4 linked regions of the Homo sapiens genome follow. The protein of the gene in region 3 interacts with the protein of the main gene of each other region in a pairwise test. Each region holds a gene or a part of one and is shown on either strand. Other genes may lie near its edges.

Region 1 (7,777 bases), on a different chromosome or scaffold from region 3:
TGTAGCTGCTATGGATAACAGTATAGGGGTTCCTAAAAAAATTAAAAATAGAGCTAACGTATCATCCAGCAATTCTAATTCAATGTATTTATCCAAAACTATTAAAATCGGGAACTCAAAGAGATGTTTGTACTCTCATGTTCATTGCAGCATTATTCACAGGAGCCAATCTAAATGTCTATTAACAGATTAATGGATAAGGAAAATGTATATGCTTACAATGAAATATTATTCAGCCATTAAAAGAAGGAAATCCTGTCATATGCTATCATATGGGTAAATCTGGAGGCCATTATGCTATGTAAAATAAACTAGTCATGGAAGGACAAATGACTACATGATTTACTTATACGAAGTATCTCAAAAAATCAAACTCGTCAAAGCAGAAAGTAGTATAGTGGGTGCCAGGGGCAAGGGGAAGGAGAAATGGTGAGCTGCTGTTCAATGGGTATAAAGATTCAGTCACGTAAGATGAAAAGGTTCTAGAGATGTGCTGTAGAACAATGTTCTTACAATTAACATGCTGTACTGTGCACTTAATAATCTGTTAAGGGGGTAGGTCTCATGTTATGTGGGTTTTTTTCCCACAATAGGAAAAAGTCAATGTATCTTACAATAGCAAATCATGAAAATGCAAATAAAAAATTATCACCCATTAAATTAGTAAGGATTTTAAAATGCTGGTGGGAGTTTCCTGAGGCAGCCTCTCACATACTGCTAGTTACAGTATAAACTGGCAGTCACAACCTTCTGAAAAATGGTTTGGAAATATGCATGAAAGGGTCTTAAAAATATTTGTACCCTTTAATATAATAATTTTACCTATAGAAATATGTCTTCATGAAGTAATAACAAATGTAAACATGTTTATTATTTATAAGAGCAAAAATTAGAAACCACCTACATATTCCATAGGAGGGGAATGGTTAATAAATGTTGATACTTATAATGAAACAACAAAAATATTTTTGAAGTTTTAGTTACAAGAGAAAACTTCTGACAATACAATATTAAATTAAAAAGGCAGGATACACTTTAGAGAGGGTGATTACACATATGTCAAAAAATTAAAAATAAAAAATGAAGGAAATACACAAAAATGATAAATAGGGTTTTTTCTGGGTAATGAGATTATAGGTGATTTAAGACAATTTTTGAATCCTTTTTTTCGTATTTCTAAAACTTTTGACAAAGAGCTTATATTATTCTCAATCAGAAAACTACAAGAAGATAACAGCTTAAAAATGAAATGTAATCTAAAGTTGCATGAAAAAATATACTGTATCTTGCTCGGTTTGTCCAAACATATTCTTGAAAGTGTCTACTTGCTCTTTAGTCTTTCCAAACATAAACATGTAAGGTAGAATGTAGAATGACCAAAAATTAGATGCTTCATTCTAGAAATACTGAAAGGTATTTGACTGACTTTAGGTATGTTTAAAACAAACATACACTTTTTCACTAAATCTTTTGATTTTAACAAAACAGGAAGACACAATTGGGGAAAAGTCAAGATAAAGCCTTACATTATTTATTTGTATAGTAAGCATATGGCCTCTGGTAGCCCAAGAAATAGCACAGACTCCCTCTGGGATGATGTGGGCGGGTCATCCTCTTCAAGAGAGTGGTCTGGGGTGAGGGACATAAATGGAATGGCAAGCAGAGAGAGCAGGGAAGGGTCTGCCCTGGCAATCAAGTCAGCCAAGCCCACCCTGGCTCTTAGTGGGTTGGCAGATGGCACAGCCAGATTGTCCCACCAGCCTGGAGCAACTCACTAAAACAATTACATTCAAGAGAGGATAAATCCATGCTACAATCAGATTCTTAATATTAACTGGGGATGATGGGGTCATGTCCTAATTGGTTTAAGTTGTGAGCAAATAACTCTGATAAGAGATGCACAGAGAAAGTCACACGCTGGCTTCTTTAGGAACACAAGCCATCAACGCTCTGAGAAAATCAAGTTAACACCCCTCACCACTCTGCCATCCCCCCAGCCCTACCATTTGATACCATTTGAGAAGTGTTTTTACCTTTACTCATGTCTGTTTCCTTGAAATCAGAGAAAGCAACTGTGGGGACCTTGGGTACATAGAGTCTAGAAAAACAGACATAGTTTTGATGGGCTCATGCTGTGTTTCAAGAAAATTGAAAGTGTGAATGAGTTGCCAACAGTTAAAAATTGAGAGGTTTGGTGTAATCAGGATTTGAGGCTTTTAGAAAAATTACATCTAGCAAGAGTGAACTGTCATTGTCACATGGCAACAATCAGCTAGAGATGAGTGACAGATAAGCCCTGTAGACGGCACAGACCCTACCAATGTGCCACAGTCCTCACTCAGCCCATTTGCTCATTTGGATTTCCATGCCTGGTCCCTGTATGTATTCTTGACTGTGATCAATAGAATTGCTCTTACCAGTCAGAAGCTTTCAGGGCTCAGAGTGATTCACAGAGCTGATCTAGCCTTGAGCTGCCTAGGATAAAAAGCCTCCATTGACACAAAAACTCATTCACAACAACACTTCCTGTAAGTCAGTCTGATAAAGACAGACCTGATTAAGTACTATAAACATTCTCAAAGACATGTTGGGAGAGTAGAGAGACATGTCCCTCTGGAAGTCAGGGGTGCCACAGGCAGATAGCTAGACGGGGGGGCCTTGGAAGATTGGGATATCCTATGGGAAACTCTCAGCCTAGTGCTGGGAACTTAGTAGGAGGTTAATACATATTTCTTTCTATCTTCCTAAGAGCAGATGCGAAGCACAGCAAGGAGGAAATGCAGCCAGAACAGTATAATGCAATGCAACGCACACAGGCACAGCAGGCCAAGAGAGAAGGAAGGAGGTAATGGTAGCCTAGAGAGCAGAAGCAGCAACAGAGGAGGCCTAGAGAAGCTAGGGTGACAGAGGCAGGCATCATCGTAATCGTGACGGCGCAACTGCAGAATGATTCTGACAGATCTTTGATAGTCATACAATCTATGTGGTAAGTAGATGCACAGAGTACATGAAGACAACATTAATCCAGCAGAAATTTGAAAGAAATTTACATCAACACTGGGGAGGAGACATGATTTATCCCTTTAGTGAAGGAGTGCTGGTTAAAACTGTAACAGATTTTTTATTACATATAAAAAATATAGAGAATACGTAATATATGCAGAATAACTAATATTCATTTGAAATACAGAATTTCTATAGTTAGCTGAAATAAGTTAACTGTTTAATAAAGTTTATTTTTGGCTTACCAGTGGTGTGGCTTTAGTTACTTTGGAATAATTTATTTCTAAAACCTCAATTAAAAAAATCAGTTCCTAACTGAAGTAAAATTATCAGAAACATCATGTCACTACCGTAATAACCTGTCAGAGAATGTTACACAAGGGGTGCAGCACAGCGGAATGGAAGGTTACAGATGCAATTATTATTTTTTCTAGCCCTTTGCTTCGGGTCATAGCCAACCAGTCACTATACACAGGGTAGCTTCTGCAGTATTTATTTCTTTAAATATTTAACAGTGTTGAGAGGCAATGACTCGCAATAATATGTAGAGTTTCTAGCACATTATGAGTGCTTAATAAATGTTAGAACAATAAAATCCTGTATGATGAAAAACAGCAGTCAGTAAAACTATACAGTCTACGATATTTTAAAGCCATAGCAATAACTAGTTTAAAAAGAATAGAAAGCAAACAGTGCATTGATTAAATCACGGTCATAAAGGAACATTTACGTTCACTAAAAAGTCCACCCAGGTAATTTCCCCTTGTATGTATTAGGGGATGGAAAGAAGGCACAGGAAAAGTGGATAAAGTATGGATTAAAAAACAACTCTTCCCCCATCCCCCCGCCACCCCCCAAAAGCCAGGTGGAGCTCTATTGACCACAAGCCGGGGTAGCTACATCCAGTGCAACGGTGGGGTGCTCCAAGCGCCTTCGAAACGTCCTCTACGCCAGCACCAACTGGCAAAACCTTCTAATTTTCTAGACGCCTTTCTGCTTGGTTTTGGAAGGGGAGGCACCCAAGTGGGTGTGTGCGACACCTCTAGTTGTAAGCCGGGACACAGTGACGTCGAGAGAGCGCTATTCTACTCGGAGAGGAAGTTAATCCCATCGAACTCCAGCCAGGAAAACGTGGGCTTGGGAACCGCGGCCGCTCGTTTCCAGGATCTCCCGCGGGCCTTCGCGGCTGAAGAACCAGGCGGCGAGGGCTGAGGACCCCGCGCTCTAAGTTTGGGGAAGGAAGTGAGGAAAAAAAACAGAGCTGCTCCTTTAAGAACTTCCTTTCCCTTTTACTCTATGTTTACATAACACAGGGGCCGAGCCTCCGCCGGGCCGAGGGGGGCGGGGAGTGGGCGCGGACGGCCCCACGCGCCGGGGGAGGGGGCGCCCCGCGGGCCGGGGGCGGGCGCCTGGCTCTGCGTGGGGCGGGGCGGCTCCCACCTGCCCGCGCGCTGGCCCCCGCCTCCCCCGCGCGGCCCCAGCCTCTCGTGCGCCCGCTCCCTCCTCCTTCCCTCCCTCCCGCGGGGCTTCGGCGGCGGCGCTCAGCGCAGGCAGGTCCCCCTGCTGCCGGGTCCCATTTGTTGCCGGCTCTGACTCGGGGCGGCCGCGGCGCGCGGAGCTCCGGGGAGTCAGGCGGAGCAGCCGCGCAGCCACGACGGAGCAGCAGCGGGACTGGCCGCCCCGCGCCCCCTTCGCCGCCGTGCCCTTCCCCGGCGCGCTCACCCCGTTCTCGGGATGGGATTGTAGCGGCGGCGCGGACTCGGCGGGGATCGCGGCGGAGGCGGCGGCGTCGGCGGCGGCGTCGGCGGCCGAGCGGGGCTCCATGTTTTCCCCTGGCCAGGAGGAACACTGCGCCCCCAATAAGGAGCCAGTGAAATACGGGGAGCTGGTGGTGCTCGGGTGAGTCCTGGGGTCCCTGGTCCCGGGCAGCGGCGCGGGCGGGGAGCGCCCGCATCCTGGAGCGGGGCTGGCGGGGTGGCTCGGTGCTCTTTGGGGACCGCCGGGGCGCTCGGGGCGGCAGGAGAGGCTCTCAGGGCCCGGACGGCGGCGCGGGGGCGGGATGCGCCCCATCGGCGCGCGCTCGGGGTGCTGCGGCGGACGCCGGGCTGCGCTGTCCGCGCGGAGGACGCGGCGGAGGAAGTGGCCAGAACTCGGGCGACCCAGCGGGGGCAGCGCCGGGCACCGGGTCCGCGGCCGTATCGTGGGGGCGGGGGCAGGGGCTCCACTTCCCGCGCGCCGCGTCCGGGCCGGGGAGGGCGGGCAGGGACTCCATGTGAGGCGCCGCGGTCGCGGGCGCTTCGCGGGGTCGCTTCCCGAAGCTGAGAGGCCGGCCGGCGCGGAGCCCCGTCTTCCCACCTCCCTCGCGGACCGTGGTACCCGCGCCCCCGAACTCCGAGCGCGGCGCCGTGAGCTTGGGCCGCCGCGGGCTGTGGGATCCCCGGCTGCGCTTTGCAAATTGTTCCGATGACCGCCGCGGGCCGCCGCAGCCCGAGAGCAGTGAACTGTGTGTGACCCGGGCCGGCCGGCCCTCCGCTTCTCCCCGCTTGGAGTGCTCTGGAGGGGAGGGACAGGATGCGGCTGCTCGGGGCCTGGCACCGGGGCGCGGGCCGTATCCCCCCGGTCCCGGCCTCGCTGATGCCCTCCCGGCTGCGGGGAGCTCGCCAGCCTCGCCCGCCTCGGCTCCCTCTCTGCTGGTGAAAGCCGCATCTTGAAGATAGTAATTATGTACAATCGTTAAACGGCAGCAATTAGAGACTTCATCTACTTCCTGAGTTTCCTTGTGACATTTCTATTGTTTACCCTTAATAAGCCAGGAGAGAGGCTTTGCGGGCTTAAAACTGGATATAGTGGGCAGTGAAAGGGGAGGGGGAAGGGGGAAGTGCAGGAAACTGGGGGGAAGGAACAACTTGGGTTTAGTGTTGAAGAAAGGATTATTTTTTCCTTTGGATGTGTCGCTCTGGGAACCCGCGCTTTTGTCCTTCTGCGTTGAAAGACCTGTATTCAGAACATCCTCGGCGCTGATAGGTAGGCTTAGCACACATATGAGGAGTCATGGCTGTGGGAAGACTCAGGGAACTTTGCAAAACGTGTTTTGATAAGTGAGTGCCTTGAAGTAAGTGCTGACTTAAAAATAATTTAAAGAGAGGAGTTTTTGAGGGAAGCTTCCAGACACCGCACAACTCAAAGCTTCCCAGTCTTCCTGACTTTGTTGCTAGTGCATTAAGTGGGGGTGGTATTGGAAATCTCATTACCTATTTTGAAGCTGTTTGCAGATAAGTGTTTTTCTCACCTACATCTTAATTGCACTTCAAAGACAAATATCAGGGTTCACAGGAAGGCGGGAGGAATGACAGGAGAAAAGCCGCAGTTTAGTCTGTCTTATGTAACTTCAGCCCAACCTAATCTTGTGGAGTTTGGTTTTGTTTGTGTGGCTGGCTTCAGTGTGTTTAACACTGTGAACTTGACGCGGAAGATTAACGTATGCCAGAACTTTATTTCATTATTTCCTTTTGAGGAAATCATTGTTGAGATGTTTCAGAAAAGCAGCGAGTGGGCCTGGAGAGGTTTTGTGTTCATAGCTGGAAGTGCAGGGCATTCCGAAGCCACGGAAAGGATTGAAACCCTGGATTGTCCTAGTATCATAGTCTCACTCCACAGGAGCCCGGGATATAACGTTGCAGTTGCATATGGTCTGCCCTTTGCTAATGCTTTTCCAGGAGACCAAAGTATGACATAGTTGGCACTTAGGGGGCGAGACACTCAACCGTCGTTTGTGTACCTACTCTGTGCCTGTGCTGTTTAGGCATTGCTGATGCAGTGAGAACAGGGAACTTTCCTTTTAGAGTGGAGTGACAGGCATAAACAGAAAGAAACATGCAAATAGAGGAGTAATAAGTGACAATTTCAGGTGCAGCCAAGTTCTGAAGAGGAGTTGATAAACTTGGAGAGTGACTGCTTAGGTGGGTATTGGTTTCTTCGGCTGGAAGGTGAGGGAAGTTCTCTCTGAGGAGGTGAAATGTGAGTAGAGGATGCTAGTCTGGTTTTTGAATACTTGAATTGTGGTATTTTTCTTTTTTCGAGGGTAGGTTTCTGACTGTTTACCAATGTTGAACACATTGAAGAGTGCAGGTGAAAGAGTGACTAGGTAGGAAGATTTTTAGAGAGAACCTTATTCATATTCCACCCTTAGGATTTGAGACAGTGTACTTCATCTTAAAACAACAATAACATTCACATAGAATTAATATCATCTTTATGATATTATCTTTATGTCCTCTGGGGTATAAATATTGGAAAACAGAAAATTTCAAGTAGATTTTCTGAATAATGAGATGATTCCTGAGATCTAAAAATGCCTAATATTTGGTATTGATAGAAGCTTTGCTTGTCAAATTCAGTGCTTTTTTTTTTTTTAATGGTTATGTGACTGTCCTTTTTGCTCACTTTCGAATGTCATAGTGAAACATTACTAGGAAATCCTGGAGAGCAGAATGAAGAGCTGATAGATGTCTATATCCATATCTAAATACTTCTATATCTTTTTGTGTGTTACACAGTATTATTAAGAGATTCCACATAGCTAGGATTTTAGTGAGCTCATCACTTTCTGGGCTGATTAGTGGAATTTAATTATTTCATGATTCCAGCCAGTTAATGTATCATAGCCACAACTCTTTGTTGTGTCCACTACTTAACTGAAGGTAGAGAAAAATGACTGGTCTAACCAGCAGGTCTTTTTGCTATAATTTTAAACTTACGTTTTAAGGTTAGGGAA
Region 2 (7,213 bases), on a different chromosome or scaffold from region 3:
GTTGAATCTCCTTTGAATCTCATGAATTTCAGATTCTGATTTAGTGTAGCTAGGCAATTTCTAGCATATTGCAAGTATCAACATTCTGTTAATGTGACTGGGCACAGTGGCTTACACCTATAATCCCAGCATTTTGGGAGGCTGAGGCAGGCGGATCATTTGAGGTCAGGAGTTCAAAACCAGCCTGGCCAACCTGGTGAAATCCCTTCTCTACAAAAAAATACAAAAAAAAATTAGCCCAGCATGATGGTGGGTGCCTGTAATCCCAGCTACTTGGAAGGCTGAGGCAGGAGAATCGCTTGAACTTGGGAGGCGGAAGTTGCAGTGAGCCAAGGTCATACCACTACACTCCAGCCTGGGTGACAGAGCAAGACTCTCTCTCAAAAAAAAAAAAAAAGAAACCCAACATTTTATTGTTACTTTAAAAAATGTATTCAGTGGAATCTAGGTACTATGGCAATTTAATACCTACCATTAGCTATTGGTAAAAAATACATGGAAAGCTTTTCTCTCCCCTCCCCCGCTCTTGCCCTCCCCTCTCTTGCCCCTCCCCGTCCCTTCCCCCGCTCGCTCTGTTGCCTGGAGCTGAGTGCCATGGTGCCATCTCAGCTCACTGTAACCACCTACTCCCAGGTTCAAGTGGTTCTCCTACTTCAGCCTCCCAAGTAGTTGGGACTACAGACGCGTGCCACCACACCTGGCTAATTTTTGTATTTTTAGTAGAGACGGGGTTCACCATGTTGGTCAGGCTGGTCTCGAACTCCTGACCTGAAGTGATCTTGCCCGCCTTGGCCTCCCAAAGTGCTGGGATTACAGGCGTGAGCCACCGCGCCTGGCCCGCTTCTCTTTAATAATCAATAATTTTATGTCTTTCATTTTTCTCCTTTCATTCATATCAACATTCTACTTCTCTCACAGAATTTCATCTTACTGCTTCCCTCCCCTGTACCCCCGAGATGGAGTCTCGCTCTGTTGCCCAGGCTGGAGTGTAGTGGTGCCATTTCGACTCATTACAACCTCCGCCTCCCAGGTTCAAGTGATTCTCCTGCCTCAGCCTCCTGAGTGCCTGGGATTACAGACCCCCACCACCACGCCTGTCTAATTTTTGTATTTTTAGTAGAGATGGGGTTTCACCATGTTGGCCAGGCTGGTCTTGAACTCGTGACCTCAGGTGATCTACCTGCCTTGGCCTCACAGAGTGCTGGGATTACAGGTGTGAGCCACCGTGTCCGGACTACATTTTTATGCTTAAAAGCTTTTTAAAATTAGTCATTATAATTCTCTGCAACAAAACTACGTGTATACATTGAAAATTAAAAAGTTTTTCTGCGCTCTTAATATTCTGAGAGTTTAAGAAAATTATGATTGAGACATCATTACAGTGAAAATTAATACACAGTACATCAAAGCAAATGTATCTCATTTTGATTAAACACAGCAAGTAAAATTTGTTGGAAATGTATCTTTAAGTGTGCGGATGAGACTTTTGCTCTATTAGTTTAATTACCCATGGACAAATATTGCCAGCCTGAAACAGCTTTTAATGTCCACTTTAAGAACTTCATTCATTTAAATAAGTTGGGGACTAGAAGGGGTTTTGTCATAGCAGCATCACGCCACTCTCAGGCCCTTTTGCATTCCATGTCGGAAGCCTCAGTTCCTAAGACTCACTGGTAGTGATCTCTGCAGAAGAGTGGAGATGCAGTGAGTCGAGGAAAAATGAAGCATTTCCTCTTCTCTGCTGTGGGAGTCGACAGTGGGGGACGGGGGTGCACACATGCCACACCAGGCAATGCCTAAGAAACTTCTCGTTCACCCCGTTCACACCTGTTGCCCCCACAGAGCCGATGATGAGCACCCCACCTCCTGCCAGCGAGCTCCCGCAGCCACAGCCGCAGCCGCAGGCCCTGCACTACGCGCTGGCCAACGCACAGCAGGTGCAGATCCACCAGATCGGAGAAGACGGACAGGTGCAAGTAGTACGTACCCTCTCCACCTCACACCTTGGGAAAGGGGGCTGCGGGGTGGGCCACGGCAGGGCCATGGCGGCTTCCACCGGTTCCGCTGTGTTTTGGGAGCACAGTGATAGCTTGGGAGGAGGCACAAGGTCCCCATTTAAAGTAGAGGTCATCGTGGCCATGAGCTCTTAACATTTCACAGGTGGGGGCGGCTGCTGCAGAGCCTAGGGATTGAAGCACATGGTGGGGTGGGGCATTCAGTCAGCTCACCTCAGTCCTGCCAGCAGGCAGGCGGGCAGTCAGCTCCAAGGGTCAGGCCGTGCGGTGGTCCCTGCCCCAGCTCGTGCTCCTGGGAAACATCGGAAATATTTCTCAGTTCAGAAGTGCAGGCGCTCTCTTACTGAGGGAAAGAGTAATTTCCTTCTAGGATCAGTGGCAAAAGCTTGAGGTCATTGTTCCCATGCAGCGTGTCCCTTGGAGTTACTCAGCACACCCAGGTTGGGCGGGCACTGTCCCAGCAGCAAGTCAATGTCCTGCCTTGCCCGTGCGGAGTTCTCTATTGGGGTTTTGTGACCCAAGCTGTGGTCAGCCTGATGCGCCTAGGGGCTTGCTCCCGGGTGAAGTCCCTCTACAAACACCTCCTGGATTCTGTGGCATGAGAGTAGGGCGTGGCTGAGAAGGAAGGAAGACTTTTCTGGAAGCTTTGCTGAGTGACTAGAAATTTTACATGCACCACTAGACCTCGCCTATGTTTTTAGTGGCACCAGCCCCCTTGGGCCCTCTGAAGACAGGTCATCGTGTGCCTCCGTGTCACCAGGGCTTTCTCCTGGAAACATGGTCCTCCACTATTGAGAGTGGGGCGTGGCTCTCATCTCAGTGTGGCTTCAGCATGCTGTCTGGAAGAGGGAAGGCTTCCGGAAAATTCTGGGGCTTTTAGAGGGGGCGTTACCCTTCCTCTTCCAAAGGAGATGAGACAGTTATGAATAGTGAATCTTATTTAATAAGCTTATTAATTTGTTTGACATTCACAACGGCAGTTCCTCTCATCTTGTTAGTAAGAAGTTCTTTGAAAGCGTTCCAGAGTAGATAACTTTGTCATAAGGCTTACATAGAACATTCTACAGGAGTTTATTTTAAGATCCATTTCGACTAAGAGAGAATTTCAAATAAGATAAGGAGTATTCGTTTCATTTACAGGTTTATAGGAATTATTTGTCTGCCCATATGTATAAACAGTGGATTCTTTGATTTTTTTTGAATCACATTTATTAGTGTTTACTGAAACTGTCTAAATAGTCATATGAGTGTTTCTTTGATTTGAAAAACGTTGCCTGCCCTGTTGTGAGTGTAGGCACGCCAACAGCTCCCCTGCTTCAGCCACACACTGCGTAGCCTCCCAGTATCCCCAGAGAGCTGAACGTATCATTTGAAAAGAGGTGTCATTGTGATTTTCTATTTCCCCTCTTTTCTGTGTGTCATGCACATTTTAAAATTTACTTGTTTAGTAACATTTAAAGATGTAAATATCTTTCCTGGGACCTATTGCTCCTTTGTGAAGTGCTGGAAAATGTTCTGTGTTACACAGCAGCCCCCCCTTACCCATGCTTCCACTTTCCCAGGCTTTAATTACCCATAGTCAACTGTGATCTGAAAATATTAGATGAGAAACTCCAGAAATAAACAATTTGTAAGTTTCAGATTACATACTCTTCTGAGTAGTAGCATGATGAAGTCTGGTCGTCCTGCTCTGTCCAGCCCGGGACGTGAGTCGTTCCTTTGTCCAGCATGTCCAAGCTGTGTGGCACATATGGGCGGGAAAAAGCATAGCATATATGGGGTTCAGCACCATCCACAGTTTCTGGCGTCCACGTGGTGGGGGTAGGGGGTGCTTCTTGAAACCCTCATGGATGAGGGGGACTACTGTGAACCAAAAGCTTAATTTAAAGAAGTGACCACAGACTATATTGCACTATTCAGGATTTAGTTATCTTTTTGAATTGTAAACAGATAATCAAGAACAAACATTCCGGAAGATGTTTCTTGTTTCCTTTGCTTTTGATTTTCTTCTGATGCTTCTTGGTGTCTTTTCTTGCTGCGGATCCCACAGGGACACCTCCACATCGCCCAGGTGCCGCAGGGGGAGCAAGTCCAGATCACGCAGGACAGCGAGGTGAGTCAGCTCTCGCTGCAGCACTGTCCCTGCAGGCACCGTGCCCACATGCTCCCGACCTTCATCGGTGTCACAGTGCGAGGGCAGCAGGGAGCCCCCAGGACAGGGAACGTGGGCAAGGGCTGCAGGACTCCGCTTCCAGGGTGCACATAGCGGGCCTGCAGTCTCTGTGGCCTCTCTGCCTCCCCCTCCTGTCCGTTGGTCTCCACAGCTTCTGGTCTGTCTTGGTAAAGATCTCCTGGGTAGATGTTTCTACTGCTGGCTGGAAGTGCCCTCTGAGTACCCTTCTCTCCCTGTCTGGCCCTGCCCTTCCTGCCAGGGGAGGCCCCCAGTGTGGCCGAGATGGGGTCTGCCCCTGCGTAGGTGACCTGACATACCCCCTCACCTGCCATGTGGCCCCAGCTTCCTAGTGGCCTCTACGGGATTAGTGCCGATTTCATGGGATGGTGGGGAATCCCACAAGGTGATGCTGCCAGTCCTGAGAGCTGCTCATAGCCCTTGACGCACCTGCTGGGTCTGTGATTGTCTCAGTTTCTGGAGCTCTACCCGGCCACGCACTCAGAAGTGCGGGCTCAGCTGCTGTTGGGGTCTGGAATGTGAAGGCGGCAGTGACAGTCTGAGTTCTTGGAAAGCCGAGGCCAGCCTGTTGCGATGCTCCATGTTTGCATGCCAGAGCAGGACTGTCTCCCGGGTGACCGTCCTTCGACTCTGGGCTGTTTCCTGCAGCACAGGCAGCAGCAGGCACAGGGCACTAAGCAGCACACACGTGTTGTACTCAGTGACCGTGGTGCGCTCTGGGGGATGAGGAACATGGCTGTTTCTAGGTCGTGACAATGGCACCAGCTTTGTGTTTGGTGCATAGTAGTGTGTCGCTGCAAAGATCTCAGGCTTCCCCACACACACCAGCAGCAGAGACTAGGAAGCCCGGGTGCTGAGGTCAAGGGGACTCATGGAGATGTTGGCGTGCGAGGCCTCCTGGGAGCTCATGCTGGGTGCAGGTGCTGTGGGGGAGCAGAGGAGAGAGAAGCCCTGCCATCGGGGACTCACAGCGGGCGCAGAGCCTCCTGCCCAAGTGCCCGTGAGCAAGACTGTGGACACATGCACGCCGTGGCACGTGGAGCACCAGGGACTCGGGCGTGTCTGCTGGCAGTGGCTTTAATTTGGACACCAGCAGTTCCCGGTGGGTTATCCTGAGAGGGGAGCACATGCGTAAGGGTTCTGAGGGCGGAATGAGGATGAGGTGAAAGGGGAGGAACGAATTCATGTGGGGGCCGTGAGCGACTGGGAATGAGTGGGCTCATCCACACAGCGACATGACCAGGTCACTAAGAAACGTGGTCAGATGGATGGATGGAAGGAAGCAGCAGGGCGGGGAGCAGGTAGGGGACGGTCCCAGGAGGCCAGAGTGTCCAGGAAGGAGCAGGGCCTTCCCTGTTCTGTGTCTGTGGGTGGGTCAGGGACCATCTCCTTGGAGATGTCAGGAGATGCGCCTGTCAGCTCAGCGAGGTCAGGTGCAGGAGTTGGGGGCCTGAGTGGCTGCGAGGTGCAGGATCCCAGCAGCACCTTCCAGTGCAGGAGCTGCCTTTGAGGGGCAGGGGAAGGTTTGCTTCTCAAGGCACAGACAGATGTGGGCTGGGAGGCTAAGCTCACTGCCAAAGAGCTCAGCCAGAGTTCTTGAATACCTGGAAGCCTATGAAGTTCGTCAGAATGCTTAATTTCCTTAGAGTCATTGAAAATGCAGGAAAATTGAAACAGCAGCAAAAGAAAAAAAACAACACACATTTGCTTTTTATAGTTTATGCTAAAAAAATCTTGACTACTCGAATTTCAATTTTTTATTATTAGTTTTATCCATCAGTTTTCAAAACTGAATCCATCTTGTATAGGTGATTGTCTTTCGTTTTCAATAGGAATTGAATGCAGTAAGTTAGAAATTGCTAATAATACTAACGATGGCTTTGTGATGAGTGACAGTATGCAGTCTCGTCACCATACATTCATACCGTGTTCATTTAAAATTATTTTGTTAAAACAGGATATCTGCAAATAAACATTTAGCAGGGTCTGACAGACAACACAGTTCCTTTTTACAACAAATGAAAATGAATTTCTAACTGGAGAGCTCTTAGTAGCTCTGTGGTTGAGTGAGTTGGTTCCTTGCGTGCAGCCCGTGACCTGGCGTGGTGATGCCGCACAGCTCAGCAAGGCGTCCCCCTTCGGGGAAGCTGGGCGACACACACATAGGACGTCTCTCTGCTACTTTCTGTACTTTTTGTGAGTCAGATTCTTTCAAAATAAAAAATGAAGTAAAAATGACATTTTCATTTGGGGTCAGGGTAGGGGAATGAGTACAATGCTTTTTGAGTTGTTTGTTCATCTTTAAAATAATAAATAGTACCTAGAAATGTCAATATTTTGTTTTGGGGCTTTTGTTGCTACTGGAGGTTGAATTTTTGCAGAACTGGGGTTTTCTTGTTATTCTCAAGTGGCCTGTGATGTGTCTTGGCGTGTTTGCCGTGTCTGAGGGTGTCTTGGTGTGTTTCTACTCATGACCGTCTCCTCCTCTCGTTCTTTGTAGGGCAACCTCCAGATCCATCACGTGGGGCAGGACGGTCAGGTGAGTGTCCCAGTCCCCATGCACATGCGGGCGTTGCGCTGCCGAGGGATGGGGTTCTCAGGGGAGGGGGTGGGACGGTCAGGTGAGTGCCCTGGTCCCCATGTACATGTGGGCATTGCGCTGCCGAGGGGTGGGGCTCTCACGGGAGGGGTGGGACGGTCATTGTGGGCATTGCGCTGCCGAGGGGTGGGGCTCTCATGGGAAGGGGGCGGATGGTCAGGTGAGTGCCACAGTCCCCCTCTCACATACAGGCCATGGTGCTGCCAAGGAATGGGGGCTCTCGCGGGAGGGAGCGAGGGTGCAAAGGCCTCTCAGTGTGAGCCCCAGAGCAGGACTGGCTTTCCTCACCATGACAATGCACAGGCCTGGAAGGGGGGAGGGCAGGGCTTGGGGGTTACATTTGCTGCTCCGTAGGATTTCAGCAGCTTTTGCGCTATGGCGGAAACGTGCCCTCCCACCCCCGCCACC
Region 3 (7,866 bases):
CTCAGCACTTCGGGAGGCCGAAGCTGGTGGATCACGTGAGGTCAGGAGATCGAGACCAGCCTGACCAACATGGTGAAACCCCATCTCTCTAAAAACACAAAAATTAGCCAGGCATGGTGGCAGCCACCTATAATCCCAGCTACTTGGGAGACTGAGGCAGGAGAATCACTTGAACCTGGGAGGCGGAGGTTGCAGTGAGCCAAGATCACACCATTGCACTCCAGCCTGGGGAACAAGAACAAGACTTCGTCTCAAAAAAAAAAAAAAAAAAGAAACTTCCTAAAAGAGACACTCAAATACAGTCCCTTTTTCTCATTTATGCCATGAACTAGTGTCCAAGTCCCCTCCTTGGCAAGTCCCCTCATTGTTCCCCAACCCTCTGGATCTCTCAATTCCACAACTACAAGGATAATTCGTGGCAGAGGACTTCTACCTCTAGGACACTATTTCAGCTTTATGGACGTGTTTGAGCTGAATGGTCAGTGCTTAGTGTCATTAAATATTTCACATACAAATGCTGATTTCCTCTGTGTGTGTACACACTGGGCCATATGTAAAATATACTTATTCCTTTTTTTATTTTTTGAGACGGAGTCTTGTTCTGTCGCCCAGGCTGGAGTGCAGTGGCATGATCTCGGCTCACTATAGCACCCGGCTCACTATAGCACCCGGCTCACTGCAGCCCCTGACTCCCAGGTTCAAGGGATTCTCCTGCCTCAGCCTCCCGAGGCACTTGCCACCACGGCTGGCTAATTTTTGTATTTTTAGTAGAGATGGGACTTCACTATGTTGGCCAGGCTGGTCTTTAACTCCTGACCTCAAGTGATTCACCCAGGCTAGTCTTGAACTCCTGAACTCAAGCGATTTGCCCACCTTGGGCTCCCAAAGTGCCGGGATTACAGGCATAAGCCACCGCGCCTGGCCCAGGGTCATAAATTTTTAAAAAGTACACACTGGGCCAGCCATGATGTAAAATATATTTATTTCTGTGGGTCATAATTTTTTTAAAAGTTTGAAAGCCACTGTTTTCTAGGCAATAATGAGCATAGGAAGGAATGTTTTTAGACTGCTTCCTCAGGGAAAAGACCACCCTCGCAGGCCTGAGGCCGAGTATTTTGTTGAATTTATATTTACAATGTTGAAGAAAAAAATAATTCAGGATACTTGTTAAAGACAGCAATAAAGACTTTAGTCAAGGAGAGACTATCCAATGGGGTCTTGCAGTGGGAGAGAGAGATTGGGCTCAACTATGAATACAAAGACAACTAGAGATCTGAAGCCAAGGAGCAGGATGGAGTCAGTGGATGGAAAATTACTAAGGGGAAATTTCCAGAATAAAGGAGGATTCTGGCTAAACCAATTTAATGGGGTTATTGCTGAAGGCAGGCCAGGGTGCTAAGATATCGAGAACAGGGGATAAGGAATTTGATGAGATACCAAGTATGGTCAAATATTAAGGGTGAGGCGTTTTTACCCAACCAACCCAGCAGGATTCTTGCTAAAACTGGACTAAATGAACAAAGCCACTAAACTAAGGACAGAGTTCCAGGTCAGGACCTAGTCAGAAAGAGGACTTAGAATAACCAGATTAAAGTTTGGTCAAAGGAGAGAGTCTTTGTCAATATTACCTCCCTAGCAAAACTCGCTTTCCACCGGGTATCACACTGAGGACTTTTGGTTGTTATCTTCAAATAGAAGAGAGCAGAGGAAGGAAAAGCAAGCTCTTTCCTGATTCTTCTAAGGTCACCAATCTCATTCATGAGGACTCCAAATTTAATCCTAATTATCTCCCAGAGACCCTACCTTCTAATTTCTAATACCATCACACTAAGGGGTAGAATTTTTCCTTCCTTCCTTCCTCCCTCCCTTTCCCCTCTCTCCCTTTTTTTTTCTTTCTTTTTTTTTTTTTTTTTTTTGACACAGTCCCACTCTGTTGCCCAGGTTGGAGTGCACTGGTGCCATCTTGGCCCAATGCAACCTCCGCCTTCTGGGCTCAAGTGATCCTCCCGCCTCAGCCTCACAAGAAGCTGGGACTACAGGACAGCGCCACCACGTCGGCTAATTTTTGTAGAGCCTGGGTTTCACCATGTTGCCTAAACTGGTCTGGAACTGCTGGGCTCAAGTGATCCGCCCGCCTTGGCCTCCCAAAGAGCTGGGATAACAGGAGTGAGCCGCGCCCCGTGTAGAATTTCAACACATGAATGGGGAAGGGGGCAGAGAACACAAACATTCAGTCCATAACAGCCAGGGACTAGAAGACTTTGGTCCACCATAAAAAGCAGGACTTATGTTTCATGGATACCAGTATTCCCACTTATCTATAGGGTGGAGAATATTTAGGACTTTGCAGATTCATACTGATGGTAAGCATTATTATTATTATTATATATTTTTTGAGACGGAGTCTTGCACTGTCGCCCGGGGTTGGAGTGCAATGGCGTGATCTCAGCTCACTGCAACCTCCACCTCCCGGGTTCACGCGATTCTCCTGCCTCAGCCTCGCGAGTAGCTGGGATTACAGGCGCACACCACCACACCTGGCTAATTTTTTGTATTTTTAGTAGAGACAAGGTTTCACTATGTTGGCCAGACTGGTCGCAAACTCCTGACCCCCTGATCCACCCGCCTCGGCCTCCCGAAGCATTATTTTTAATCTATGGTTCAGAGTCAGTGACATTGCCTCTCTGAAGCAGGTTTTCCAAACGAAAACGACAATGAAAGCCCCAATTCATAAGACTGCAAAATGTCTTCATTTATCTTGGTGAACTGGGAGGAGGAGGGGACCTGAGGATAGAGACAGTATATACGTAAATGTAAGAAGCACTTTTGAGCTTTCTATATTGTACACGATGGGGAAAAAGCACGTTGTTCAGGGATCTCTGGCTCATTGTATAAGATGGGGTAGACAATACCATGTAATTCTTTATTCGAATTGCTTTGTCTTGCTGCATGGCTTTGTCATCAGCTGATTTTGCAATTACCTTAACAAGCAAAGGAAATGCCAGTCAAGTTCAGCATCTGGGACCTCCTCACCATTGCAACATGTCAGGCCTCAGGCAGGAGACAAAAATGCCCAAGGCTGAGTGTGAAGCCCAGGTAAGAAGTGAGACAATGGCTTTGAGCCTGGGGTGTAAGCATGCCTTGTTCCCAAGGCCAGTATTTACATGTGGGGTCACTTCCACCTTTGGTACAGTTAATCAGGCGCTGATTACGTTCCATGGCATCATCCTGACTTCAGGACTTTGTAGGAAAGCTGAGGCAGGACACTGCTCAAGTGCATTTGACAGTAAGATGCTTTGTGCAGCCAGATGTTAATTCCACTTGCCCTTACGCTTGCTTACGCTACACCGTAAGCGGGGCTGACCCTTATGGAGCTGGGCTTTTCTTCGCCCGGAGACTCTTGTCAGATAAGGCTTAGAACTCCGCCAACCACTTAGGCTTTTAGGCAAAACGCGATGCAACCCTTCTTAGAAGGCGGGTCACTGCTCTGCACCAGCTGCCAGCCAGAGAGACAACAAATAAAAATGGAAGATCCTTCTCCGTGAGAAAACAGGCCTCGGACTCAAAGCAGGGGGCCTGAGGGGAAGGTGAGCAAAGAAAGGCAAGGCGAGGGCGCTGCTTCAAGAAGCCGGGTTCATTCAAACCCCGAGGACAGCAAACCCCGCCTCCCCACGCCGCCGCCCGCTCAATCGCCGAGCGCTCCGGGTGTGAGCTCGCCCCGCGGGGAGCGGCTTGGAGCCGAGGAGGCGGCGGCAGAGGTGGTTTGGGCAGCCCCGCGCGGCGGATAGGCCCAGGCAAACAACACCCATTCCCCCTCCTCCTCGCTCAGTTCAACTCCCACTCGGCCCCGGCCACGCCCTGCCGCCACCGCCCCCTCGGGCAGCTTTCCGCTCGGCAGCCAGGCCTCGGTCGGGGGCGGGAGAGAGGCGGTGCCTCGAAGAAGGCACCGCGACCGCCGGAAACTACGAGTACCGACAGCCTTCGCGGTAGTGCCCCACCCCCTTTCTCCCACCACTCAGCGCGCGTCACCCTGGGCTCAGCCAATGGAGACAGAGCCAGGGAAAAAGGGCGCCCGGGTCCGGATGCGCCTCAGGAAAGCCATGCTCCCTGCGCGGGGGCAGCGGGCAGTTCACCCAGCGCGCCGACCTGTTGGTGGTCCGCGCGCGCCCACGTCCGCCGCTCTCGCTTGCCTGGATCAAGGGCCCTACTTTTTTCTTTAGTGGCAATTGGAGGGATTGCTGGAGGGGGTTTTTGAGTGGAGGGCGCTGGGAAATGAGTAGGGGGCGGGATATCCTGAGACAACAAGTTTGGCTGTATGGAGGGCCTACCGGCAGCGCTCCTGAGCTAGAACGCCGAGAGAAAGAGCGCCAGAGGAGCCAGGGAGGAGGAGAAGAGCTGCTAAAGGAATAACCCCGAGAAAGGGGGTGGAGAGGAGGCGGCCCCAGCGCCCCGGCCCCCGGCAGGTCGGCGGCCAATCCGCTGGGGGAAGGGGTGGAGAGTCGGAGGCTCCGGCGGAGAGAGGCCGAGGGGGGTGGGGAGTCGGCCAGGCTCGCACCGCCCTGGCCCCGCCCCCGACCCGCGCCGCCGCCCGCGCCGCGCGCCGCCGCTGTCAATCAAGGGCGAGTCAGCCGGGCTCGGGCGGAGAGAGGAGCTGCTACGCCACAGCCCAGCGGCGGCCATTCGCGGAAAAAGAGGCAGAGCCTGTGCCAGCTACAGCCTCCTCCGAGCCACCGCGGGCGGGCGGGACCGGCCTCTCCTCCCGCCTCGCCCCCACCCCCACCCACCTCTATCCCAGTGTCTCCGTCTGAGGGTTTGTCCTGTTAATGCGGGATGAGCGGTACGTATTCTCCACCCCCCTCAGTCTCCTTCGCCGCCTCCCTCTCTCCCTCCCTCCCCAGACCCTGCTCGGTTCTCCCCCCTCCCCCGGGGCCGCTGAGATGCTTTAAGGGGAGGAGGAGAGGGCGGGAGGGAATCGGGGAGGGAAGGAGGGTTGTGTTTTGTCTTAATGTCTGAGAGAGAACAACCTCCTTCTGGGTGTTGCTCTGGAGCCGATGGGTCGGGTTTCAAACCACGTTTTGTGATATCCCCCTCCTCCCTTCCCTCCTTCTCCCCCACCCCCTGCCGGTGTGCGTGGATCGCGGGTTTATGGAGATTAATGTTCGGGGGGAGGGGGGAGAAGAGGAGAGGAAGAAGACGAATAATAATAATCCTAATAACCTGTTGTCGTGTGTGTGTGGTGGGGGGGTTTGTTGCAGATCAGAAGAAGGAGGAGGAGGAGGAGGCGGCAGCGGCAGCGGCGATGGCTACAGAAGGAGGGAAAACCTCTGAGCCAGAGAATAACAATAAAAAACCCAAAACCTCAGGCTCCCAGGTAAAAGCAAACAAATTAAAAAAATTCATCACGACACATTAGGAGAGAGAGGGAGTTATGCCCTTTGAATGTCCAGAAGTAACAGAATAAAATGTTTATCCACTCAAAGCATCTTTCTGAGAGTGTGGAACTTAAATTGTAAATTCATCAAGTTTTCACCTCTTTGAGGGTATAACGCTGTTTAAAATTACATCAGGAATTCAGACTATAAGAAAACGGTGTGTGTGTTCCCAAGGGCATTTTGAGTTTAGGAACATAACACTTTACAAAGTTGTAAAGAAATTTCCTTTTATTTAAACTTGATATTATAGGACTTGCTTCCTTATTCATATAGTTCTTATCTACTTTTGTTCGTATTTCTTTTTGATTTCTGCTGCTTCCTAAATTGTTATGTAGAGCTGTCAAAATAAGTAACCCCCTGGCAACTACTGGCCTCCACTAAATCCGCCCACTTTTTTTCCCCCCCCCCTCTCCTTTACCGTCCCATTTTGGGTAGGACTCTCAGCCCTCTCCTCTGGCTTTACTGGCAGCTACTTGCAGCAAAATAGGGACTCCTGGTGAAAATCAAGCAACTGGACAACAACAAATTATTATAGATCCAAGTCAAGGATTGGTGCAACTTCAAAATCAACCACAACAGCTAGAACTGGTAACAACGCAACTTGCTGGAAACGCTTGGCAACTTGTTGCCTCCACTCCTCCTGCTTCAAAAGAGAATAACGTTTCTCAACCAGCCTCTAGTTCGTCTAGTTCTTCCAGCAGTAATAACGGGAGTGCATCTCCTACAAAAACTAAATCAGGTAATTCTTCCACCCCTGGTCAATTTCAAGTCATACAAGTACAAAATCCAAGTGGTAGTGTACAGTACCAAGTAATTCCACAACTTCAGACAGTGGAAGGTCAACAAATTCAAATCAATCCAACTAGTAGTTCATCTCTACAGGATTTGCAGGGTCAAATTCAGCTCATTTCTGCAGGTAATAATCAAGCTATACTCACAGCTGCTAACAGGACAGCTTCTGGGAATATTCTTGCTCAAAACCTGGCAAATCAGACAGTTCCGGTCCAAATTAGACCTGGTGTTTCAATACCACTGCAGTTACAGACTCTTCCTGGTACTCAGGCTCAAGTTGTAACAACCCTACCAATTAACATTGGAGGAGTGACTCTAGCTTTGCCAGTGATAAACAACGTGGCTGCCGGAGGAGGGACTGGGCAGGTTGGCCAGCCTGCTGCTACTGCTGATAGTGGGACTTCCAATGGGAATCAATTAGTTTCCACACCCACCAACACCACTACTTCTGCCAGTACTATGCCAGAATCTCCCTCCTCCTCCACTACCTGCACAACCACTGCTTCAACGTCTTTGACAAGCAGTGACACATTAGTGAGCTCAGCAGATACTGGCCAGTATGCAAGCACATCAGCCAGTAGTTCTGAACGCACCATTGAAGAATCTCAAACACCTGCTGCTACTGAGTCTGAAGCCCAGAGCTCCAGTCAGCTTCAGCCTAATGGAATGCAGAATGCACAGGATCAATCAAATTCTCTTCAGCAGGTGCAAATTGTAGGCCAACCTATCTTACAGCAGATCCAGATCCAACAGCCTCAGCAACAGATCATTCAGGCTATTCCACCACAGTCGTTTCAACTCCAGTCAGGGCAGACGATTCAGACCATCCAGCAGCAGCCTTTACAGAATGTTCAACTTCAAGCAGTAAATCCGACTCAGGTGCTTATCAGGGCTCCAACTTTAACACCTTCAGGGCAAATCAGTTGGCAAACTGTACAGGTTCAGAATATTCAGAGTCTTTCAAATTTGCAAGTTCAGAATGCTGGGTTATCCCAACAATTAACCATCACCCCAGTGTCTTCAAGTGGTGGCACAACTCTTGCTCAGATTGCTCCTGTGGCTGTTGCTGGTGCCCCAATAACTTTGAATACTGCCCAGCTTGCATCAGTGCCTAACCTTCAGACAGTGAGCGTTGCCAACCTGGGTGCTGCAGGTGTTCAAGTGCAGGGAGTTCCCGTTACAATCACTAGTGTTGCAGGTAAGTTCTGACATCTTTTTAAGTACCTTTTAAATAGTTTTTCATAACAATTATTGCTTTTCTCTCCTAATTCTAAGGTTTGACGTAGACCTCTGAAGTAAACACACAATCATAAGGAACCAGAAATAGCAATATTATACTAACAAACATAGCTCTGTAGTAATCAATGTGACATGTTCACTTTTGTAGATTTTATAATAATGTGTTAAATTTGTTAGTTTTTTAAAAAGTATTGTTTTATGGGACAGAGCTTTCTGATTAGAATCATAATTGCCTTCTGTAATTTAGTGGTCTTATTTGAGTACATTCCAGCTCTTCAGAAAGAACCCTAGTCGAAATGATATTTATCTCTTCTTTGAGGGAAAGTAGTTTTAAACTGAATTGGTATATATAATTGTGAGTCTGTTGAACTTTTAATTCTGTGGTGTAATAAGGCTAACTTTT
Region 4 (7,213 bases), on a different chromosome or scaffold from region 3:
TTTGCTACAATTGTTAACTTGCATGGAATTCAAGAGATTCCATTTTCAAGAGAATTGCCATGATGTTCTTCAAATAAGGTACCAGGATGGAGTGTGAAATATCAAACTCCTTTTATGCCCAAGGCCAAACAGAATGTAAGAGTTTCAAATATTAATTGGCCTCTGAGTGCTAAATTAAAATGTCAACACAACAAAAACATTTTGTGAAGACAAGTAGGGTAGTGTTACTTGTGCCAAATGTTGGTATCCCCTGTCTTGGTTGCAAAGCATTTTGAATAAAACAGCTGACCTTCTATGCTTGATGGTAGAAACACAACTGTGGGAAATATAACTTAGCTGCTACTGGGATTTTTTTTTTTTTCGATTTTTCATCTTTGAGCTTTGTGATAAATAAAAATAATAGCCTTACAAATTTAATAGAATGGCCGTTAATTAGGATGGCTTAATTAGAATGGCTTCTCTTAATATTTATTATCTAGGTGTTTTCAGTAACACCATCCAGAATTTCACTGAGTAAATCAAAACTTCCCCTTCCCCCTAGATATGTGGTTAACAGGCACTTGGATCTGTTGTTCACTGTAATTAATGGGATTCACTCCTTGTGGAACCTTGCTAGAAGAGGATAACTAGTTCTGATCAAAGAAACTTCATTTGTTAGAAGTTCTAGAGAGTGAGATTTAGCAGAGCTATCAAGGGTTATGATTAATCTACACTAGGCCCTTAGCTCCTTCAAAGGAAAGGAACAGAAAGCAGGCTATAGGGATACCACCTGCTCTTCTTACAAATCCAGCTGTTAGTCTGCAGCTCCGGTGACTACAGCTATGCTTATGATGCAGAAAGAAAGAACAGCTACTCTGCTTTATTTCCTGCCATTCCCTACACAACTCTACCAGACGAGTTATTTTCTAATGAAAGTTCAACATCCTAACAATATTTTGTGCAACTCATGTATTATTTGTAGTTAGAAAAGTTATTCCGCTCTGCGGATGCCTTGATGTCTCTTACCAGTGGGATTTTTTTTTTAAAAGGTTGTGAAAGTTGTGATGGGGGTGAAGCCTTCATCATAAGATATCAGAGGAAACTGGAGGAGGTTTAGCTGTTTTGGAGAAGGAAAATGTACAAAAGTGCAGATTATAGCTTGACATTTCTTATCCTATAATGCATGCACATTTGGTGTTTTGTATCCTTCTACATGCAAGTTTAAAACTTTATGCCTAGGAGAGCAAACATAATGCAGCAGAAGGGTCTCTGGACTGTAAGAAGGCCATTTGGCTGGAGTCTATAGCGTAACTGTCTTTCAGCTTTGAGCAAGTCTCTGAACCTCTCTTGGGCCTCGGTAACATAATTTGTAAAATGAGGGAATTTGGAATTGATGATGTCTGCAGTACTTTATAGTGCTTAAAATGAGTTATTTGATAAATATGAGGCATTGGATAGTTGGTCCAGCTTCTTGCTAAAGCTGGGTGTTTTAATACCTAGGAAATAAGAAGACACTCAAGGTGAATGTCCATTCATTCAAAAGATTTCAATCAAACTGTAAAGCCCATGGAATCCAGCTGGATTCCTTATTTATGATGGATTTATACCTTTAAAATATATAAATGTTTCTATGTTTAGCATAGTATACATATAACATGTATATATTTACTTATATATGTTTGTATAATTGTATATATATTTAGATCTTGCCTTCTATTGTTTTTTCTTTCCTTTATAAAACAAATAATTGCATGTTTATGGTAATAAATGGTATAATCATATACTTTAGGTTTACATAAAAGCATATAGTATATAGTTAAGTAATCTGCCATTAATATAGGTGCTGACTGATGCTTGTGAGTATAAATGTTATATTTGAACACAATGAATACTTTGAAATATCAAGGACATAGAAGAAGTATTTGGATGCAAGCAAGAAATATAGGATTGGTGAGCTTTTTGGGTAGCTGTTCTGTGTACTTAACTATAAACACCTCTACTGCTGAATAAGGTTAGTGTAACCCCATACCAGGTGCCCTCTCCTTCCACCATCAAGCACATATTAAGTGAAATTTTTAAACAGTTAAGCAAAACTCATTTTTTTACTTGTAGGGACTGTGCATAGATTAATTTGTTAAATAGCTTTCTTTTCAGATTGTTATTTACTCACATTTTCTTTCTAAAGGAACTGCTCTATGGGGAGAATGAAGATACTATAAAATTATTTAATGTTATTGAACTTCATATTTATAATGTCAATTTACCATGGTCAACATGAATTTATTATTATTGTCACTTGGCATGTGTAACTTTTTGAATGATTTAATAAGCACTTGATAAAGTTTGAGACTTTTTGTTTCCAAAATTGGGTTTGATTTCAGTATAGCCCTAAACAAGAAAAGCTAACACTCCTAGAATAAGGAAATATTAAATATTTAACTTGTTTGAGGTCTTTTTATTCTGTCTGGTAGTCTCAGCTCTCTTTTTTGCTTTTGTCTTCCTTTAGGTATACAAATGCTCTCAGTCCAGCCAGACACCAAGCCGAAAGGTTGTGCTGGCTGCAACCGAAAGATCAAGGACCGGTATCTTCTAAAGGCACTGGACAAATACTGGCATGAAGACTGCCTGAAGTGTGCCTGCTGTGACTGTCGCTTGGGAGAGGTGGGCTCCACCCTGTACACTAAAGCTAATCTTATCCTTTGTCGCAGAGACTATCTGAGGTAGGAATTATCCTTGCACACCAGTGATGACTGGATGCCTTTTAAAGTACTTTTGTAAGTGTATTTTTTGTTTGCTTGTTTCATTTCCTTACTGCCAGCTTATATTCCTGAAAGAAGTTACCTGTCAGCCTTCAAAGCGTTGCCCTGTGTGTGTTACTCAAATTAATGCTTAAGGAATAGCCAACAAACCACAATATTTAAAGTATTTCAATTTGGCTTGCCTGCACACTCAGGCAGTTGGTTATGGCGCTGCCTATGTTGAAACTGCCAGTTAATGTCAAGGATGTATTTGGTCGAAATCAGCATTCAGGTTGATTTACTTATTTTTTCTTTTTTTTCTTTTTTTTTTTTTTTTTTTTTTTTGGAGCTTAAGGGGGAATGGGGGTTGAGCATAACACAAAGAAATTGATCAGCCATTTGGCAAAATATCTTAACTATTTTTAAAAAGTTCAACTTGAAAAAAATGGACTGTGTAAAAGAGTTTAATTGTTGCCTCTAAGTTGGACCTGAATTTAGTCTTCTAAAGTTATTCAGCTGTCTTCTCTGTTTCAGGTGTGTCAGAGGAAGTCAGGTGCAAATCCTTGGTTAATATCTATTAGTGCATTTATTGTAGAGTTTTGAAAACTTTCCCCAAGTGTAGATACATCTTCCTCTCGCCCCACCTCATGACATTCTAAACGGGAATCTCAAAAATACAACTAAGCAATTGAACCGCCTCAGACTTGCCAGTAGTTTTATGGATAATAACAAAGTAAAGACCTCCATCATTATAGGAAAATGACAGCCACTCTCCAACCTGTAAACATCTGAATGCTTTCAGGACAAGGCAGGTGTTCTTGGTTATGGAGCTATGAAGCCTACTAAAGCTTGTTTTCCAGCATTAAGTACTCAACACAGAATTTCTGCTGAAGGAAAATTATTTTGCTTTTCAGGCAACTTTGTGACTTACTTCAGCTGCAAATTACTTATATTAATAAAGTAGGATCTATCAAATTAGAGAAATGATATATGGCATCATTGGGATTTTCATATTTAATACAATTTATCATTTTTCTGGTCTGACATTAAGCGATTTATTTGGAATTTTTTCCCTTATGACAAAATTTATCAATCAATGGTAACTCCTTTAGTACCTTGGTCATTTGATGAGGTGTTTTCTAGGGAATTTGGTCGTTCTTAGTATATAATTCAGCTATTTTCAGTCAGATCCAATCTTTAGATATAAAAATATATCATTTGATTAATGGTAGTTACAAGAGGGTGAAAGCGGTACTGTTTATCAGATTCTACTCCTTCTCGCTCTTAGGACGGCCTCATCTGACAGCCTCCTGACTAATTATGGCCACTTGTTACTACTTCTCTGTGTTCCAAGTGCGTAAAACACATGCAAGGTGCCAACAATGAGAAGTCACTCTCTCCAGCCAGGATTTCCCTCATTGTGTTGGCACAACGAATCAAAATTAATGTACAATGTTCATTTTTTTAGAACTCTCCGGTCTTTGAACTTTCCTCTTTGAAATAAAAATTTCTCTTCTGCCCATTGTGAATTAGAGCCTCATTTCCACATAAAGCATTTGTATTTGCTTTTAGTGATTTAATACTGCTTTTTAGTTTTGCTTTATCTGTACTAACCAATAGTCATAGCTTTTTGACTCCTTTTGACTTTTACATTTGTTTGTAATTTCAGTATCTCAAGTGGATTTATGTTACCATTTCAAATAAGGAGTTTATATAGCCCGGGCAATGTTAAGGTGTTTTAATAAACCAAAGGACAAAAATTAAGTAAACTTGAAAGAATGTCAACTGAAATATCTGGGGTTTTTGAAAACAAAAATAAAAATTTGCCAAGGAAATACCTATATTGTGAGTATAACATGCTTCTTAGCTGTCAACATAGCATCGAGCAAAGACAGTAATCTTAGATTTGTTTTGTTTTCTTTTTCCTTGTGGTAGTAAAAATATATTTGATAGTCTCAAGTGTTTTGCTAAAACGCATTTATCAAAAATAGTTTTCATATCAGAAGTTTTTGTATCTCTATAAGAGTGTATGTGGCTTTTTGTAGAATAACTTTCAGTTACCTCCTGATAGGCTCAAACTTTTAATGGTGGTTAACTTATTAAAAGTATATAATATTCTTTCAAATATAAACCCTGGTCCTGATTGCCAATATATTCATTTCTCAGAGTACGATTTCCGCTTAAATTGGTCATTACCACATTAATGGCCAGTTGTTATGTTAACAGCCTAACGGTTGTTAACATTTCAAACTAAGTTGTTAACAGCAATCTTGTCCCTTATTTAAACTGAAAGTTTGTTGTATATAATGTGACTTATTTGGCAACTTCATCAACACTTAAAATTGCAGAAGTGAAGTGGAGAATTGGTGTGTGTAAAACACTGTGTTACGTGTTATAGATTATGCCGCAGATGTGGTATTTAGTTTTATGTGGAAAGCATGTGTCTCAGTGAAATTGTGTAGATGTTCAACTGCATATGTCTCTGATTGGCAAATTAAAATAGTCTGATTCTGTATGGTAAATCAACAAATATAGTCAAGCAGATTTTATTTACAAATTAATTTCTTTGATTAGATACAAATAGTTGTTCAAAAATGTTTATTAAATGCTTACTGTGTGAGAGGTATGATTTCAGGCAATGGGTGAAATTAGCTAAAGGAAAAAGGAAGGTACACCTAAAGTTGCCACTATCTAATTGTTTATTTAATTACATAGAATCTGTAATATAATCAGTGAACAAGTAATATTCTGTGGTTATTTTCCTGAGCTTTAAAAGTAATTTTTCTCATTTTCCTCCAAATTCAGCATACTTCCATTTTGTATTTTATATAACCAATGTTTAATCACTTAAGTTCTATTTTAAAAGTTGTTTTATTTTTGGCCCTTTGATATTATGTAATTTCTCTGAGGCACCAAACTGAACATAAATAACTTACATATTTATATTTCATGTCTAAATTATTAAGAACATAAGTAAGAATAAGGAAAGTAATAAAATAGTAATTTGCCTGTCCACATATATTGTTGGTTACAAGTATTGTCCTGGGCCAGATAATTTTTTACATACAGTGAAAAGTAAAATATTTTTGCCAATTACATTTAGCTTCTTAATACACTTCTCCCTCCATAAACAGAAAGAAAGAAACACTCCTAATTATGAGCAATGAGACTTAAAGATCTGTGTTTTACTTGTGTTACTTTGAGTAGTGATAATGATGATGTGATTTATAAGTTCTTTGAATGATGATTTGAGATATTAAATAATATGAAAATATAATAATTTAGACTGTAAGATATTTTCTTAAGGGTTATAGAAACTATTATTATGGAAAATTTGATGTCTTTCCATTTTTTTTCTCCTTTATGGCACTAGTAGCTATATTTAAGAGAAAAAGAAAGAAAAATCTTCCATAGTTTGTACACTAAGTATCAAATCTTAACAGTGGAATTTTTCACTTTCCAGAACTGGACTGGCATATCATTCATTTAGCTGTGGAACATAAAATGTACATATCTGATGAGACAGAATTTGCCCATTTGTGGGATTGCTTTCCTCCTTTGGAAACTCATTAGCTAAAGAAAGAGAAGGACTGACTTTTTAAAACTTCCTCTAACATGTTTCTGACTGAAATTATGAAATCTACCCAGTCAATATTTATATGCCAGGCAGACCAAGAAATGTATCTGTTAAAAATCTATCCAATGCATTTATAATTATTTTTATTTTTTTGAAGAGTAACTTATGACAAATTAGATATAGAAACATCTTTGTACTTTAAGTTGGAGCTTAAAATTGATATTGTCTAAAGTAGATTAAAAATGACTGTGTAAAAATAGCAAAGTTGTAGTGATAATGTTTAAGGTACTCATCACTGCGATCTATCCGCCTTATTTCAGTTTGAAAAAATATGAATAAAGTAGCCAGCCAGTGCATAATCAGAGTCTTAGAATTAGGAATTCTACATGCTTTTATTTAATGTTTTGCAGCAAGCATTAAATAGAACTAGGAGAAATACCAAAATACTTTCTTTTTCAACTTGAAGGCAATAAAGGATGTCAGAATGTAACTGGAACTCAACTTCTGGGCAATTTTTTTGTTGTTCTTTCTTTGAACCTGCAACTTTTTGTGACGTACTTTAAGCATTAAGTCTATATAGGCTGTATGTATCTTGTATCTCTATGAATGATATCTTGCCAGAGTTTATTCAAAGCTGTTTGCTGTGGTATGTGCCATGGAAGCTGCTTATAGCTTTTCCTATATAAGAAGCTGTAAAATGTCTTATATAAAATTTAATGCAATTTGCTATTTTTATACGTGAGGATGATTTGTTTAAAATGAAACTACTGGGAAAGAGTGATGCTTCATGCTTCACCATAGTTGCTAATTAACTAAAATGATTTGAAGCTTGCTATGCTGACTACAAATTTTATAGGCTTTAATATAATAATATAATAACTCTAAAAGAGAAAATAAAAATAAATTGCCACATAGGGCA

Evidence for each region.
Region 1: the proteins of SP4 (region 3) and PELI2 interact in binary tests that used the Homo sapiens proteins (3 or more experiments, as listed by UniProt).
Region 2: the proteins of SP4 (region 3) and BANP interact in binary tests that used the Homo sapiens proteins (3 or more experiments, as listed by UniProt).
Region 4: the proteins of SP4 (region 3) and LMO3 interact in binary tests that used the Homo sapiens proteins (3 or more experiments, as listed by UniProt).

The regions. Positions count from the first base shown.
Region 1 is NC_000014.9:56,113,836-56,121,612, forward strand, and holds the start of PELI2 (E3 ubiquitin-protein ligase pellino homolog 2), read left to right. Parts: upstream 1-4,575; 5' UTR 4,576-4,825; coding exon 4,826-4,902; intron 4,903-5,900; exon of another isoform or gene 5,901-6,027; intron 6,028-7,777. UniProt on the Homo sapiens protein: E3 ubiquitin ligase catalyzing the covalent attachment of ubiquitin moieties onto substrate proteins. Involved in the TLR and IL-1 signaling pathways via interaction with the complex containing IRAK kinases and TRAF6.
Region 2 is NC_000016.10:88,031,267-88,038,479, forward strand, and holds part of BANP (protein BANP), read left to right. Parts: intron 1-1,842; coding exon 1,843-1,979; intron 1,980-4,056; coding exon 4,057-4,128; intron 4,129-6,706; coding exon 6,707-6,745; intron 6,746-7,213. UniProt on the Homo sapiens protein: Controls V(D)J recombination during T-cell development by repressing T-cell receptor (TCR) beta enhancer function. Binds to scaffold/matrix attachment region beta (S/MARbeta), an ATC-rich DNA sequence located upstream of the TCR beta enhancer.
Region 3 is NC_000007.14:21,423,422-21,431,287, forward strand, and holds the start of SP4 (transcription factor Sp4), read left to right. Parts: upstream 1-4,661; 5' UTR 4,662-4,830; coding exon 4,831-4,837; intron 4,838-5,255; coding exon 5,256-5,371; exon of another isoform or gene 5,372-5,482; intron 5,483-5,867; coding exon 5,868-7,422; intron 7,423-7,499; coding exon of another isoform or gene 7,500-7,510; exon of another isoform or gene 7,511-7,866. UniProt on the Homo sapiens protein: Binds to GT and GC boxes promoters elements. Probable transcriptional activator.
Region 4 is NC_000012.12:16,596,141-16,603,353, reverse strand, and holds part of LMO3 (LIM domain only protein 3), read left to right. Parts: intron 1-2,485; coding exon of another isoform or gene 2,486-2,493; coding exon 2,494-2,699; intron 2,700-4,386; coding exon of another isoform or gene 4,387-4,459; exon of another isoform or gene 4,460-4,562; intron 4,563-7,213.